Regions from separate parts of the Homo sapiens genome. Here region 1 is linked to region 2. The links come from fine-mapping of genetic effects on gene expression. A gene starts in region 2. The other region holds a variant in brackets. All regions are shown on one strand. Distances are between the middles of the regions.

What was found.
Region 1: its variant is fine-mapped to the expression of FCHSD1 in whole blood (INTERVAL, PIP above 0.99).

What each region holds. Positions count from the first base shown.
Region 1 is chr5:140,860,217-140,868,551 of GRCh38, forward strand. The region is part of intron 1 of PCDHA1 (protocadherin alpha 1); the gene reads left to right. All of the region lies in intron 1 of PCDHA2 (protocadherin alpha 2), which reads left to right. The region is part of intron 1 of PCDHA3 (protocadherin alpha 3); the gene reads left to right. The region is part of intron 1 of PCDHA4 (protocadherin alpha 4); the gene reads left to right. It also overlaps PCDHA5, PCDHA6, PCDHA7, PCDHA8, PCDHA9 and PCDHA10, and 3 more genes. Among named protein-coding and RNA genes, the nearest start is that of PCDHA11, 4.6 kb to the right of the region's middle. The variant C/T (reference allele first, on the strand shown) is at 3,519.
Region 2 is chr5:141,647,724-141,656,006 of GRCh38, forward strand. FCHSD1 (FCH and double SH3 domains 1) reads right to left here and starts at 3,695. Exons shown (of 20, transcript NM_033449.3): 1 at 3,625-3,695; 2 at 3,297-3,394; 3 at 2,636-2,681; 4 at 2,164-2,231; 5 at 1,672-1,813; 6 at 1,449-1,585; 7 at 1,234-1,297; 8 at 245-373. The coding sequence starts at 3,645. It overlaps ARAP3 (ArfGAP with RhoGAP domain, ankyrin repeat and PH domain 3), which reads right to left. Exons shown (of 33, transcript NM_022481.6): 30 at 8,146-8,209; 31 at 7,898-8,035; 32 at 7,639-7,677; 33 at 5,679-6,712. The coding sequence ends at 6,227. RefSeq lists an enhancer at 1,717-2,295.

The DNA of each region.
Region 1 (8,335 bases), 790 kb before region 2:
GTATATATAAGCCAGGCATGGTGGTACATGCCTTTAGTCCCTACTGTAGTGCTACTTGGGAGGGTGAGGTGGGAGGACGGCTTGAGCCTGGGAAGTTGAGGCTGCAGTGACCCATGATTGTGCCACTGCACTCCAGCCTGGATGACAAAGTGAGACCCTATTTCAAAAATTGAAAAAAGCAAAAGCAATAGTAACACCATTATCCTGCAAATATGATCTTTTTCATATTAATTCACGTGATAATACAGTTGGTGCAGTAGTACTTTATTTAGGATGTCTACATACAAGATAAAACTCTTCATGGAATTCTGATTTGTAAGACAAACCCACCTTTGAAGAGGTACTGATCATACACAAGAAGGTATAGGAAAGGAGTTGGAAGCTCACAAAGAGAAACATAAACATATGCAGGAATCAGGAACGAAGAAGATAAGTGAAATAATATGAAATCAAATGCACTTATGTTTTGAGCGACAGGATATTGTTGTTCTCCATGAAAAGTTTTTTTGGTTTTTTTGTTTTTTATTTTTTATTTTTTTGAGACGGAGTCTCGCTCTGTTGCCCAGGCTGGAGTGCAGTGGCACGATCTCGGCTCACTGCAAGCTCCGCCTCCCAGGTTCACGCTATTCTCCTGCCTCAGCCTCCGGAGTAGCTGGGACTACAGGTGCCCGCCAACACGCCAGGCTAATTTTTTGTATTTTTAGTAGAGACGAGGTTTCACCGTGTTAGCCAGGATGGTCTAGATCTCCTGACCTCGTGATCCACCGGCCTCGGCTTCCCAAAGTGCTGGCCGAGTGCCACCGCACCCGGCCGAAAGGTATTTTTTTTAACAGAAGAAAATCAGATTATTCCTAGATCAGAAAGAAGCTCCATTGTTCCTGTACTTTAAAAACTACAAACACCCATTAAGACCACTTGGAACCTCAGGAACAAGGACCAAAAGGTCTCAGAGGAACTAAGTCTTTCTAGTCATGAAATATTGTTTTACTAACCAAAAGAGAGGCATAATTTTAGCTGCTAGACAAAGTGGCCAGGAATCCCGGAGCCTACAGCACTGGCTTCTGCTCCTTGAATTTTGTGAAGCGGGAAAGGACCAGTTCCACTACACCATCCTGGAAGAGGCCAAGGACGGCACATAGCGTCTTCGCGGTCCCTATTGCGCAGGACCTGGGTCTGGAGCTTGTGGAGCTGATACCGCGCCTGTTTCAGTTGGATTCCAAAAGCCGCAGAAACCTTCTGGAGGTAAATCTGCAGAATGGCATTTTTGTGAGTTCTCTGATAGACCTCGAGGAGCTGTGTGGGAGGATCTCGGAGTGCAGCATCCACCTGGAAGTGATCGTGGACAAGCTGCTACAGGTTTTCCATGTGGAGGTGAAAGTGAAGAACAATAAAGACAACCTGCCAGTGTTCTCAGCAACACAAAAGAATCTGTTTCTGAAACGAGAGCTCTTGATTATCGTGTTTCACTAGAGGGTGTCTGTGATGCCGACGTCGGGGCCAATGCTCTGATGACTTACATACTGTGCCGCAATGATTATTTTTCCCTGGAAATACCAAGAGCAGGTAAAACCACTTGAAGGTGTATTTTAAAAATTCTTTCAGATAGGTAAGTCACTTCAGAGCTACTCTTGGTGCTCAAAGCAACTGATGGGGGCGAAGCTGAGCTGACAGGCACCAAAGCATTATATATCACAGCGCTGGATGTAAATGATGATGCCCAGTGTTTGACAAAGGAGTCTATCATGTGAAATTACTGGAAAATGCAAGAGAAGGTACACTGGTTATTAGACTTAACCCCTTGGATTTTGACGAGGGTTCAAACCGTCACATTGTTTCTTTGCAACTGATGTCTCCCCTAACATAGAAGCCCTTTTTCGCATAGATTCAGACAGTGGATAAATAAATGTAAAGATAGGTTTTGAGGAAACTAAATAATGAAAGATTCAAATACAGGCAGTTGACACAGGCAATTCCCCAATGTTTGATCACTGCACAGACTTGATAGAAGTCTTGGACATCAATGATAGTGTTCCAGAGTTAGCAGTAAGTCACTATCATTCCCTGTACAGGAGGACGCTCCACTGGGTACCGTCATAGCCCTAATCAGTGTAATTGACCCTAACTTCAGTGCCAAGGGACAGACGACCCGCACCCTGACTCCTCACGTCTCTTCAAGCTGGTGTCTACCTTCAAAAGGCGCTGCCCAGAAACTATTCGTTGGTACTCCACAGCGCCCTGGACCAAGAGAGCAAATCTATCCATTGTTGGTAATCGCTCGGAATGGGGACTCGCTTTCATTGTTGGCCACAGCCATCGGGTCCGTGGAAGTGGCCGAACAGTGAACCACAATGCCCTGGCGTTCCAGCAGCCCGAGTACATGGTGTTCGTGAAAGGTAACAACCCGCGGGGCTGCCACGACTTCACAGTGTCCGCGCGGGACCGGGACGCGCAGGAGAACGTGCTGGTGTCCTACTCGTTGATGGAACAGCGGGTGGGCGAGTGCGCGCTGTCTAGCTATGTGTGGGTGCACGCGGAGAGCGGCAAGAGGTACGCGTTGCAGCCACTGGACTACGAGGAGCTGGAGCTGCTGCAGTTCTAGGTGAGAGCGCGCGACGCGGGCATGCCGCCTCTGAGCAGCAATGTGACGCTGCCAGGTATTAGTGCTGGAACGACAACTTTGTCTGCGCTGCTGGCGCCTTGGGTGGGCTGGCGGCGCTGTGAGTGAGCTGGTGCGGTATTCAGTGGATGCAGGCCACTTGGTGGCGAAGGTGCGCACGGTGGACTCCAGCTATGACGCCTGGTTGTCGCAACAGCTGCATCTGTCAGCTGGCAGCACCCGTTCCACGTGGGGCTCTGCACGGGCGAGATCAGCACGACGAGTACCCTGGACGAGGCGAAAGCTACGCGCCACCGCCTGCTGGTGCTGGTGAAGGACCACTGCGAGCTGGCGCTGACTGCCACCGTCACCGTGGTGGCGTCGCTGGCGGAGAGCAGCCAAGCGAGGAAGGTCCCATCGCGGGCTTTGGCGGGCGTCGAGGTCCGGGAGGCAGCGCTGGTGGATGTCAACGTGTACCTGATCATCGCCATCTGCGTGGTGTCCAGCCTGTTAGTGCTCACGTTGCTGCTGTACACGACGCTGCGGTGCTTGGCGCAGCTCACCGAGAGCTCGTGCATGCCGGGCAAGCCCACGCTGGTGTACCGCAGCGTAGTGGGATCTGGTCTTACTCGCAGCAAAGGAGATTTTACTCTGGAGAGTCGCCTCCCAAGGTCAACATTACGGCTTTTAGTCCTAGTGTTCTCCCATGGTTCAGATTTTGGAGATGGACTTCAATAGGAAATTTTTGAGAATATAAGTACTGTAATCCTGGAAAGTATTTCATTCCTATTAATGTCCCTCATAGTGACATTGATAATGTTCACCAAGTTATTAATTTGATTGCTTTATTTATTTTGCTTTTGCTTTTTCTTTTGAGATGCTTTATTTAAAGTACACTGGGGCCGGGTGCGGTAGCTCATGC[C/T]TATTTGTAATCCCGGCACTTTGGGAAGCCGAGGCGGGCGGATCACTCGAGGCCAGGAGTTTGAGACCAGCCTGGCCAACATGGTGAAACTCCATCTCTACTAAAGATATAAAAAAATTAGCTGGGTGTGGTGGTGCGCACCTGTAATCCCAGCTACTCAGGAGGCTGAGGCACAAGAATTGCTTGAACCTAGGAGGCAGAGGTTGCGGTGAGCCTAGATTAGGCCACTGCACTACAGCCTGGGAGACAGGGTGAAACTCTGTCTTAAAAAAAAAAGTACATTGGAAGTCTAGCCATCTTAATCACTTTTTACTACAGTCACCATGAACATTCTTTAGGAATATTCTTCAGTTGATAAGTATAATGATAATAGTAATAATGAATTAGACTGAGTGGCTGTTTCCTGTAAATGAGAAAGTTAAATCTTACCGGAAGGATCATGATGAATAATGATCCTTATGAGAAGGTCAAATCTTCTCAATTTTGAAGCAAGTTCTTTATTCCTATTCATTTTCTTATTCTGATTTGTGTCCTCCATTCCTTATTGTTTTTATGTATTCAAAAATACCATGACAATATTTAATATCATAATTATTTGAGTTTAAAACATGTTTAAATGTTTATCTTTCTATAATCGATAAGTTTATCTCTCACAAATGGTGATGAGCAGGGTTGAGGCAGCTTCGTCCACAAACAATTTTGTTTCTTCATGATCAATATCCATCTTTTTTGAGATGTTGATTGCAGTGGGTGGAATTTTAGCCTTGCCTTTAAAGGTGATTTTACTTCTTAATTTTTGTCTTCAATCTTCTTATAATTTCATTTTAGGTCATTGTCTTCACAATCTTCAACTACTTCAGATAGCCAACAACTTTGTTCTTTTTTAAAAAGAAAACAAAACAAAACAATGTCAGCTCTACTTAATTACCTGTTGACTTAATTGCTGCTGTCCTCCAGTTTAAGTTGTTGAGCTCTTCTACTATTTTGGGAAGATTTCTTTGAGCACCGATTATACTCATTTTTCTTTCATTTTTGGTACCTGGCTGTATGAAAATATTTTAGGGTAGGAAAATTCACACTTATTTGGGCTTTAAGTATAAGAGAGTCTTCCCATACATGATGAAGGGTGATACCATTGTCTGTGTTCATTAAGCTGCATGGTCTTCAGAATGGCATTGCTGAGCTTGGCAGGGTGTCTCAGGCCTGTAATCCCAGCATTTTGGGAAGCCGAGGGAGGAGGATCGCTTGAGACCAGGAGTTTGAGACCAGCCTCGGCAACATAGTGAGACCCCCATCTCTACCAAAAAATGTCATTGTTTTTAATAACTTAAGTATAAGAACCATGGGATATTAATAAAGGCACTTCCACTTGACAATTGTGGTGTTAATTATACCTTAGAATTTAACATTGTATACTTTTGATATATTTGATGCAAAATATTTTTTGCCTTCACACCATATTAATGTGAATTGCTTTCTTTAAAGGGATCCCAGAGAACACGTATTTATAGCTGTAAGGATGTGTATCAAATTATATGTAAAATTACTTTGCTCTTTTTGGCTCTAATTACAAATGAGATGGCCTTTAATTCTGTGTAAAGAAATAGTATATTTACATATTGCAGGATAACCATGTTATAGGTAGGGTAAAGTTAATATAAATGCTGAAAAGGAATTAGTAGTGTCTACCTAGAAAAATAACTTCTGAGAAGATGATTTCTATGAAGATAAACATTAAGGAAATCTTCAGAAAAGGGAAAACCCTGTCCTACTTTATGGTGCTGGAATTCTCTTCATCCATAGCTATAGGACAAGAGCCAATATTGATCAGTAACTCATGATAATAAATCACCATTGTTTGAGCAGTTTATTAATATATTTGTTAGACATCATGAAGGGACTTAAATACATTATTTCATTTAATACTTATAACAATTTCTAAAGTACATATGACTGTTCCAATTTGAAAGATAAAATAAGAGAAGCTGAGATGTGTATCTATTTTATCCAGTGCCAGTACATGGTGGAGATATTATTCAAATGTGTATCTTTCAGGCTTCAGACTCATTCTTTTATCCACTATAATGTAGAGCTTTCTTTAGTAAGTCATTTCTCTGCTCAAACATGGTCTCGGCTAGGAAAATCAAGCACAAATTGTGTACAGGCAAATCTTTCTTTCTGTTGTGCTTAGAAGAAACTTCATGATTGTCTTCATCATTAATTTTGTACAATGTGTGATTGAGATGGCACTAAGTTTTTTTATGTTAAGTGATTTTTTTCTTGTAAGAGTTCGTGATCATCATTATCATTTGTTTTAATCAATGCCACACTGAGATAGGTATTTTGGTTATGTAATTGTTAAGTAATTAAGAGTTGCCTTATAAGAACTACGTATCTGTTGTTTGGAAGTGATATAAGTAAGAATCGTTTAACATGTAAGAAAAGTCAGAAAACTGTGGTTTCCAATATCCTTGTGGAACACCTAAACTAAATACTATATACCAAAAATGACACCCTTCTTTCTTTACTGTGAATAAAGACAGTGTTTGGGACAAGTATAGATGTTGATATTATTATTTCAGGGACCCTGAACTTGGCCAAAGGATTCAAGAAATGTTTACAATATTGCATACTTCAATAACAATTTTAAAGACATAGATTCCCATGAAAATCTTCAAATGTGTGTAGGTCTTTCAGTCTTCTTCAGTCTTATTGTTGGCTGGGAAGCTCATAACAACTGACAAATGATTTGTGACCAAATAACTGTTTTTACTTGACTAAGCCATGATAGAGCAGAATTAGCATCACGGAATAAATCCTATAATTTTGTTAATACAGTGGTTGGATAATGTAATTCTAATCTGTTGGTTTTGGAGAACCTCCTGGGGTTCTGACAACGGTGTCAAAATTTATTTATGTGTTTTCAAGAAATAATAGCACTAGGTCTGTTAGAATATCAGTGGATGACGTGCACTAGTAAGACATTAAACTATGCACTCTAATACTTATATGACTAACAGGACATACAGGCAGATTGTATGTCCTGACTGATATAGTAAAAGTCAGGCACAAAGTTCCTTAATCTTCAATTGATTTTACAAAATCAGTTAACAATAACTGTATTGAAATGACTTCTTGGTATTAGCCTATACCCAGATATTAGGCTGATCCTCAAAGATGAGTTCAAAGGGCGCATAATCTCTTCACTAGGGGCTGGTTGAGATGGTGACATCTGAAATATCACAGCCAAAATGCAAAAGATGGGTCATTGATTCATACACTATATCAAACTCTTTTATGACTTGGCGTTTGTTCAGTACTACTTTATATATTCACAAAATACTGTATTGTTGGAAATTAACACCTAAATTAACATATTGTTTTAATTCAAATATGTGATATTATCATTTTTCCAGAGTAAACCTTCTAAGGTTCATTTCCCTACCTCGCAAGACTCCACATTCCATGTAACATCTTCATCCCCAATTCCCATAATAAGGTGATTGAGGATCTGTTGTTTCCTTTTGTTCAAAATAAACCTGATGTGCTTCAAATATCATGTTGAATATACTGTCATCTGGTCTAATGTTATGTTTTGATTAGAGGCTACTATGATTGATTATTTTACAGATGCGTAATGGAATTAACGGTTATAAAAGTTGATATGTCTCCTTTAATTTTTTAATACAGAATTTTGCATTTACCTGAATTAGAGTTCTAGTGTTATGACAACATTGGGAAAAGAGTAAATATGAAAAAAGTAGAACAAAATCTCAAATTAATAGTTGAATATATATATAAAATATTAGCATACACATATGATAACTTTTTCATATGCCCTTGCAGTATTTTTAGATTGGAGATAAACCATCAAAACTATAGAACAAAATATTTAAGCTAGAGTGATATTTATTCTAAATCACTTTCTACTCTAAAATTTTGTTGCATCTTCTTTTTTTCCTCCTAAATCCTAAGGGTATATGAAAAGACAAAGAAAATTCAAGCAAGTTACAACTTCAGGCAAAGAAAACTCTCATAAGCAATTCCTGTATTTTACTTAGCATTTTCTATGAAATTCCATTTCCACAAGCACTAAGGTAATTTACCATTTAGTTGAATTGTTTGATTAATTTTCTATGTTTTAAGCACAATATCAGGTACTTACAGAAGGTATAATTAAAAATCACTTCCCTTGTTTTCCATGAACTTCTGCTCCCAAACCCAAAATTCTTTCAACAAGAAACAAACTATTTTCATGAATATAACTGAATTAGATTAAGGAAACCAATGTTGGTGACTTGGAAATACCAATATGGCACAAAGATGTTCAGGGTGATTTTATTTATTTTATAAAATGATAATAAAATTTATTTTATAGTTGAAAAGCCTATTTCTGTCATATCATTGATTCTGTTACATAAAGTGCTAAATTTTGATATCTCATATTATGCTACTATGGCTTACATTAGAAATAATATATGTCAAATAAAAACTCATCTAGATCAATAGACTTTTCCTTTGTGGATTCTTTTTTAAAACTACCAAGTTTGAGAATATGAATATATTTGTTTTTCATATTGTTCTGCAATGAATATAAAGTCACTTATAATCAGAAAGCAATTAAATGTAAATAACAGTAAAGAATGAGAACTATAGAAAATAGATATGAAAATGCAAGCCCACAGAGATGAGAATAGATCATGTGGAACATAAACACTAAAGAGCTGCTTTTATAAAACTTCAATTTTTTCTTTGAGTTCCCTAGCAGCCAAAGTAACAAGGGAGACTGAAAGTAAAACAATTCAAATTTGATAGTA
Region 2 (8,283 bases):
GCTATAAGATAGGCAGAGAAAGGGTTATCCCTGATGAGGAATCTGGGGTTCGGAAGAGTTTAAGTGTACTGTACAATGCCATGCAGCCAGCTAGGAGCAGAACCAGAGTGCATGTATGTATCATCTACTCACTCTAAACAGACAAGATCCCCTGCACCACCCACTGTCATGGGGATCAAGAAGCAGGGGGAGGTCCTCCTTTCCCTCCCTGCTGAGGGATAGGGGTGTCTGGGTTAAAACTGGCCTTGAGCAGAGCTGGCAGTTCCTCCTGGTAGTAATGGTCGAGGTGGGCATTGGTAGCCACCAAGTTAAGCAGGTACTCATTGCGGGCTGCTTGCAGCTGCTGGGAGTACTGGGCTGACTGGGCGGACAGCTAGGAGGGTAAACTGATGTCAATAGGAAGCCCTAGACCCCCAGAGTCCTTCCAAGACCAATTGAGAAGCCAGATCCAGAATGGATTCTCACATTATTGAGTGCTTACTATGTGCCTGGCACTACACTAAAAATGTTGCATACACACAACTCCTGCTCAAAATCTTCTAGTGCCTTCTGCACGCATTTAAAATAAAATCCACTGTTCCTTACCATGGTCCACCACGTTCAATATGAGCTGGCCCCCGCAATCTCTCTGACCTCTTTTCAAGCGCTTGTTCCCTTGCTCACAGTACTCCAGCCATACTGGCCCTCTCTCAGTTCCTCGAGCCTACAAAGTTATTCCCACCTCAGACCCTTTGCACTCACCATTTCTTCTCTCTGCAATGTTCTTCCCCTAGATCTTTGCAAGGCCAGCTCCTTCTTGACAGTTAGGCCACCTATTCAGAGAGGCCTCCCTCTAAATTCTACCCCCTTGTTATTCTTTATCATAGTACCTTGTTTTATTTTCATCTTAATCTAAGTATTTATTTGCTGTCTGTCTCTCTTAACCAGACTGTGAGGGCAGGAACTCCATTGGTAGTGTTCTCCACTGTATCCATAATGTCTAGAACAGTGCCTATTATATACAGATCCTCAATAAATGCATATTAAAGGACTGAAAAAGAAGGGTATTCTCTCCATTTTATAGAAGAAAATAAGGCTCACAGAGATCAAGTAAATTAACCAAGGTTACCCACCCAGGAAGTAGGAGAGCCTGGATTCAACCCAGTCTTTCATACATATGCACCTATGTTCCAAACCACTAGACTACTCTGCCTCCCTCTTCCCTGCCCCCACTCATGCCCTCATCCCTCGAACCTTGGTGCTCAGTTTCTGGAGACTGGTCCGAGAGTGGAAGATCCCATGGTCACTTCGGTTTAGCCTGTGCAGATGAGAGAAAGGAGTCAGGCCCACCCCAAGTGGGAGAATATGAGATCAGAGTCAGGCCCAGCTTTGGTGACTTGGCTCCACCCCTAGACAGCCCCACCTCCCTGTTCCCCAACCTTGGGCTTCCTCACTCTCCATGACCCCACCTGGCCTGGACATCAGCCGCCTTCTCCTGTGCCAAGGCCCACACACGTTCCCGCTGCCCATACAGCTTCCGACTTCGGCTCAGCTCCCGGACAGACTGCAGCACCTCAGCCTGCGCCCTCTGGAGGTTCTCTGTTCCCTATTGGGATGCATACACAAAGTCCTTACCTAGACCACCTTTGGTCCCAAGCCAGCTCTTCCTTCACCCCAACCTCTGAGCCATACCTTCCTAAGCACCTGCTCCTTGGCGCTCCGCCCTGTACCCCCTGCTAGGTCACGGTATCGGTCAGACGCCTGGAGTCGGGTTTGGCCCCCAGCCACGGTGGCATCCAGCAGGCAGCGCCAGGCACCGAACACTGTCCTGCCCCTCCCCAGAGAAGGTCTGTGTTGAGGAGGAGAGCACTCCACAGCTTCATGAGACCACCCCCACCCCCTGCCCCCTGACCAACACCATGGGAGACAGAGTGCTTTCCCATCCTCCCTTGTCTGGGAGCCCATCAATCGATCAGCCCATTAGCTCAGCCACAAGCCTCACTCCTGCCCTCCACCCCACCCACAGTGTCCTTGCTGGGTCAGCTCCTCTGCTGCTGCTGTGTCAGCTCTACCTACAGCTCACGTGCCTTCCCCACTTGCTAGGCCTTCATCCCCACAGGTTCCTGGGGCTGAGCTCCCCATCACTTTTTGGCCTCTGTGGCCCTCCCCCTCCATAGGGCCCACCTGCTGTCCATCTCACCGCTCCGGTGCCCTTCCCTCTTCAGGAATGGGCCAGCCAGTTTCTGGAGTGCCTGGTGAAAAAGCCATCACAGAACCAAGTTCCCTTTCAAAGACCCACCCCAACTGGCAGAATATGACATCAGAGTATAATCATACCATTCTTTGGGTACATTATGTGCCACTTGCTTTGCTAAATGCCTTATAGTCATTAATTTGTTTAATCCTTACAACAACCCTACATGAAGGTAAGGTATTATTATTATTCCCATTTCACAGAGAAAGAAACTGAGGTCAAGAAAGGTTAAGTAACTTGTCCAAGGTCACATGGCTATAATTACACAGCAGGGATCTGACACCAGTCTGCTTGACTCTAGGCATCTGCTCTTGACCACAATAGGGATAGGTATGGACAGACATTACTGGTGATATAAGAGAGGCTGGAACAAGAGGTAAGGTCCAGAGAAAAGTCCCATACCTGCCCATACTCCCGTTCAATGGCTGCCCTCTGCTTGCTGTAGGATCTGCGGAGATTGCAGGTCGGGGGTGAGGTGGGGGATAAGGTTATGTTTGGTCCTGTTCTCCCATCCTCAGTCCTCTACTCTGGGCAGGAGGGAGCGGTTGGGGGGAGCCAGGTTCCTAGAGTGTAACTACACCCAGAGGGAATGGGACTGATGGGAGTCCTTGAGATCACCTCGGGCAGCTGCAACACAGGAAACCCTCACCTTACTGCCCCGGGCCCCAGCAGGATCCTCCCCACCCCAGAGGTTCATCTGTAGGCTTAGAGGTGAAGACTGATGGGGGCCTGGGTACGATGTCTGCCAGCCTTCCAACAGGTCTGGAAGAGGGAGAGGGATTCTGCCCTAAGGTTGATTGTGGGGTTGGGGGCAGTGGTGTGGAGTCAAGGGCTTTGAGGGAGGGTTCCTGTGTGTTTATGTGGGTGGGAGGGGGTTGGGAGGGGTTAGGTGGGGGAGCATTCCTATCCAGTATCTGGAGAGGCCAGGCCTAGGGTGAGGGCTGTGGATGGGTCGGCTGGGGAGCTCTTGGCCCCTGTTCCTCCACCCCAGCACATGTATATTGGGGAGAAGTGGCGCACAACGACGAAGGTGAGTGTAAATGAAGGGGGTTGGGGGAGCTACCTGATGTCCTCCAGCAGATCCGCCTCCCTCTGCTGCCAGGTCTGAAGGATGCTCAGCTGTTCCAGGAAGCGAAGCTTCACCTCCTGGGCCGGCTTCACCTGTGGGGGCAAAGAGAGGATGAAGACCCCAGCGCAAGGACCTAAAAAACACTCCGCGCAGGGAGCGGTGAGGGGGCGGGGCCGGGGGGGTGCTGAGCTCTTTCCTCTGTTACTTCTGGTTTGGGGTCTGACCCCTTCCGACTTCCCGTCTCCTACCACAAGTCGGATGCCCCCTTAGCTCCCTCCGTTCCCCCAGCCCGCCAGGAGTCCCCATTCAGGGCCAAGCTCACTTTTCGGGGCGGCGGCTGCATCTCCGCTCCAGCAAGGCGGTCAGCCACTGGACTCCGGAACTGGAGGAAGCCCCGCCCACTATGGAGCCCCGCCCCAGGCCAGGTCAGGCCCCGCCCTCTGCCCGCCCACGACTTGTCCGGCGACGTCGCAGGGCGCGGAAGCGAGAGGGGGCCACCGAGAAACTAAACCTGTTACTGCTGCGAATACGCCGGCAGGGTCCGGGTGGCGGGGCGGGCGGGGCGGACGCAGCGTCCGCTGGGCGGTGGGAAGAACCCCAGGCATCTGAGTCAAGACGCCTAAGTTCTATTTGTAGTGTAACCACTGATTCAGCCTGTAATTATTGATAATTATTCATTTGCATATGTAGATCCCCAGTCCCCGAGCTAATGATGAGGAATGGAGAGGAATTCAGTGTGTGACCAGGGAAACTGAGTCACTGGGCACCTGAGCAAAGATGCATCTGACGAAGAGAGGGCTGGTCCCAGACCTTTTCCTAATTCCCGCTTAACTGGAAAAGCCAGCGTGAGCGGGGTGAGAAAGATGCCTGGATCCAGGAAGGAACCAGGCCCAAAGGGAAAAAGACTTGGCCCCACTGAAAACTAAACGATACCAGTGAGTCGGCGAGAGCTGGGAGATGCGCAGGAAGCCCCTGCCACCTTTAGGATCTTCCAGCCCTAGCACTGCTTCCTGAGGAGCCTCTCCCCAATTCCTCATCCTCCTCACCTAAGCTTCTTTGGCTCAGGCACCTGTCCCAGTACCCCTGACATGTCTCAAAACTCCAGATTCACATTCCAACTCCCCACTGACACCTCTGCTAGTATATCTAATAGGAACCTCAACTTTTAAAGCTTTTAAACCTCCTTCAACCTGATCCTCCCCCCGTAACGTTTTAAATGGCACCGCATTTCCTCCAGTCAGTTAAGTCAGAAACCCAGAGTCAATGTGCCTTCTCCTACCCCTACATTCTATCCATCAGTAAGTCCTACAGGTTCTATTTCAAACAACAATAAACAAACAAAAACCTCTTGATCCACTTCCCTCAATTTCCAAGACCACCATCCTAGTCCAAGCCCCCATTATTAGACTTCTGGTCTAATATCTGATCTCCTTGCTTCCACACTGCCCTCACCCCAACCCACTGTTCACACAGCACTCAGAGTGATCAACCTTTTTTTTCTTTTTTAAAGGGAAATAAGATCTCATAATTTACTTGCTTAAAATGCACTTGCTTCAGAATAAAATCCAAATAGAATCCATGGCCTTCAAGGCTACGCATGGAAGACCCTGCTGGTCTTTCTTACTTCAGCCTGTACTCTCCTCCCACTGTCTGCTCACTGTGCTCCAGCCTCTTTGCTGTTCCCTCAGTAGACCAAGTCCCTTCCAATGCAGAGTTCTTCATGCCTGCTTTCTTTCTCCAGAATCTCCTCCTTCCAGCGTTCCATCTGTCGCCTCCAACAGCTTCTTTCCCTTACTTTGCAACTCTTCACAGATGCCTTCCCCATCCACCCATCCAAAGACCATCTCCACAATCACTCTTTTTTTTTTGAGATGGAGTCTTGCTCTGTTGCCAGGCTGGAGTGCAATGGTGCAATCTCGGCTCACTGCAACCTCCACCTACCAGGTTCAAGTGATTCTTCTGCTTCAGCCTCCCGAGTAGCTGGGATTACAAGCACGTGCCACCACAACCAGCTAATTTTGTATTTTTAGTAGAGACAGGGTTTCACCATCTTTGCCAGGATGGTCTCAAACTCCTGACCTCAGGTAATCCATCCCCCTCAGCCTCCCAAAGTGCTGGGATTACAGGTGTGAGCCACTGCGCCTGGCCTCCACAATCACTCTTCAAGCTCATCACTTTGGTTCAGTTTCTTCACAGCACTAAACTCACTTGTTCAAGTACTGGTTTATGTGTTTATTTGCTATTTTCTGTTCCCCTCCACAACGGAGGATTCATAAGAGCAGGGGCCCTGTTTGTTTTGTTCATGCTATATCCCCAGACCTGGCACCAATTAGGTGCACAATACATATTTGTTGAATGAATGAATGAGAATGGTAGTCTTTTGGTTCCCAGGTTTATTGACAATTACTCATCTATTTTTGACTCCCCGAGTCCCAGCTCCCAAACTCGCTCTCCCTACTCCAGGCTTCACGGTAGTCCCAGAATGTAGGAAGTGGGACAGGATAGACTTTAACATCACCCAGGCCTCTGGTTTCCAAAGCATTTTTTTTCTTTAATGCAGTAAAACCATTCCTTTAAAACCCAAAATCTCTCATGGAACCCCTACGTATCAAATATATAAAGCAGGAGCTGCCCTTGTTCAGGGATAATATGTGGGGCTTATGGCTCTAAGAAACACAGTTTGACATTCACTGCTCTCCTTACTTCAGTTACCTCATGGTATAGATAAATGGGCTGGGCCCAGAGAGGGGCCATGACCTGTCCTGGGACACGCAGCCACTGAAGCCTTTAGTCCAGTGCTCCTTCCACAGCACCACACTGGATTCTGGAGTCTTTCCAGCCAGGGCAGAGGAAGCTGCAACAGTGCCACGATAAGAGTTTCTGGGTCTTCTGGTACCTACCCTCTCAGACTGCTGGTCCTAGGGTCATGTGAGGGGCTGGCTGGAGGGTGGACTGGAAGTGCATGGGGGTTGGGTGGGGAAGCCAGGTGTCTGTGTTGGAAGGCCAGTGGGGCTGGGGGATTGGGGGCTGGATGGCTGGGAAGGACTTCCCAGGCCTGCAGTGGTCTCTCCTTTCCTCAGGATGAGGCTGCTGAGCTCCTGGAGCAGCTGTTCCTCTAGGGACCCCCGTGCCTGGGGACTGCTCTTTGAAGGGGGGCCTGGAGGGGGCTCAGGTGGCCTCTCCTCCTGGCCAAGGGTGCTTGACTTGGAGAGAAAGGGTTGATCCAATGACTTCTGGCTGGTGAGGGGGTTCTCTGGCTTCACTGTCCACTCCCGTGTGGTGGAGAAGGAGGTAGAAGTGTCCTGGATCAACTCAGGGAAGGCCCCTACTTCCTCATACACTGGCTCCTCGTACACAGGCTCCTCCAGCTCCTCTTGCTCCTCCACAGACCCCTGGGATGACTTCATTGGCTGGATGGGAATGGAATGGCAGGAGTGGGCACATAGTTAAAGTTACCAGATTATGAATCACTAACATTTACTGAGCTCTTCCTCTGGGCCAGATGCTGTAAAATACTTGGCATGTATGATTCTGGAACAACCCTGTGCAGTGGGTTACACTGAGTCAACTGAATGCAAAGGGGTTAAGTAAGTTGCCCAGCATCACATAATGAGTGAATGGTAGAGCTGGGGTTTGAACCCAGGTCTGTCTAACTCCAAAATGCATTCACTTCATCACTTTCCTTCTATTTCACAGATTCTGTGACAACTTTTTCCTTTTTTTTTTTTTTTGAGACAGAGTTTTACTCTTGTTGCCTAGGCTGGAGTGCAGTGGTGCGATCTTGGCTCACTGCAACCTCCGCCTCCCAGGTTCAAGTGATTCTCCTGCCTCAGCCTCCCAAGTAGCTGGGATCACAGGCATGCACCACCACACCTAGCTAATTTTGTATTTTTAGTAGAGACGGGATTTCACCATGTCGATTAGACTGGTCTTGAACTCCTGACCTCAGGGGATCCACCCACCTCAGCCTCCCAAAGTGCTGGGATTACAGGCATGAGCCACTGTGCCCGACCTTTCTCCTTTTATTACTGCATCTTACATCCCTCATTTTCCTCATTCTTTCTGGCCTCCTCTCTCTCTCTGTCCTGTCCCTCTCCCTCTCCCTTTTCCTCGCTCTCCCTCTCTCTCTCTCACACACACACACACCCTGATGGCCTACACACACACACACACACACACACACACACACCCTGATGGCCTACACACACACACACACACACACACACACACACACCCCCTGATGGCCTACATGAGGAAAACAGCACACCCGGGGCTCAGGCAGCACAGAGGAATACAGGGTTGACAGGCACACCGCTGGAGCAGGCACAATACTCACAAAGAACATGGACAGGGTCCTCCGGTTGTGTAGTCGCCGCTGGACACAGGTGGGGTGGGGACAAGGGGAAGGAAAGACATAAAGACACAGTGAGGACTAGCAACAGGAGACAGGGGTGGGGAATGGGGGTGAAGAAGGCAGAAGGGAGGGGGACAGTGAGCATAGGGTGGCACCAGGCTAGCAGGCACACCACTGCCTACTGCAATGTGACAAGGGCTACACGACAGGAATCGGGTTGGGGCAGGGTGGGGTGCCTTACCAGGGTCTGATTGGCAGAGAGGAGGGTGGCTCCACTGTCATCCCCACGGATAGGCAGCAAAGGCATAGTGCCAAACTTCTGACGGGCAAGGTCAGAGGAGGAATGGCGTCGTAAGACCACTGGCTGCTGGTCATCGTGCTGGTGGGAGCGTGAGGGGTTGGCATCAGTGGGCATGAAAGGCACTGAGGAGGACAGCTGGGCCCCAGGGGGACCACAGACCCAGCCCTCAGCCTTTTCTTTCCCCTCACCTGGGCTTTAAGGATGCTGGTGGTCCAATCCCACATTTCATCCTCGTCAGTGCAGGACAAGTAGCTGGGGTGATCAGAATGGAATCAGAGGGAGAGAGAGGGTCACAGCTATAGGAATGGAGCATACAAAGAGGGAAG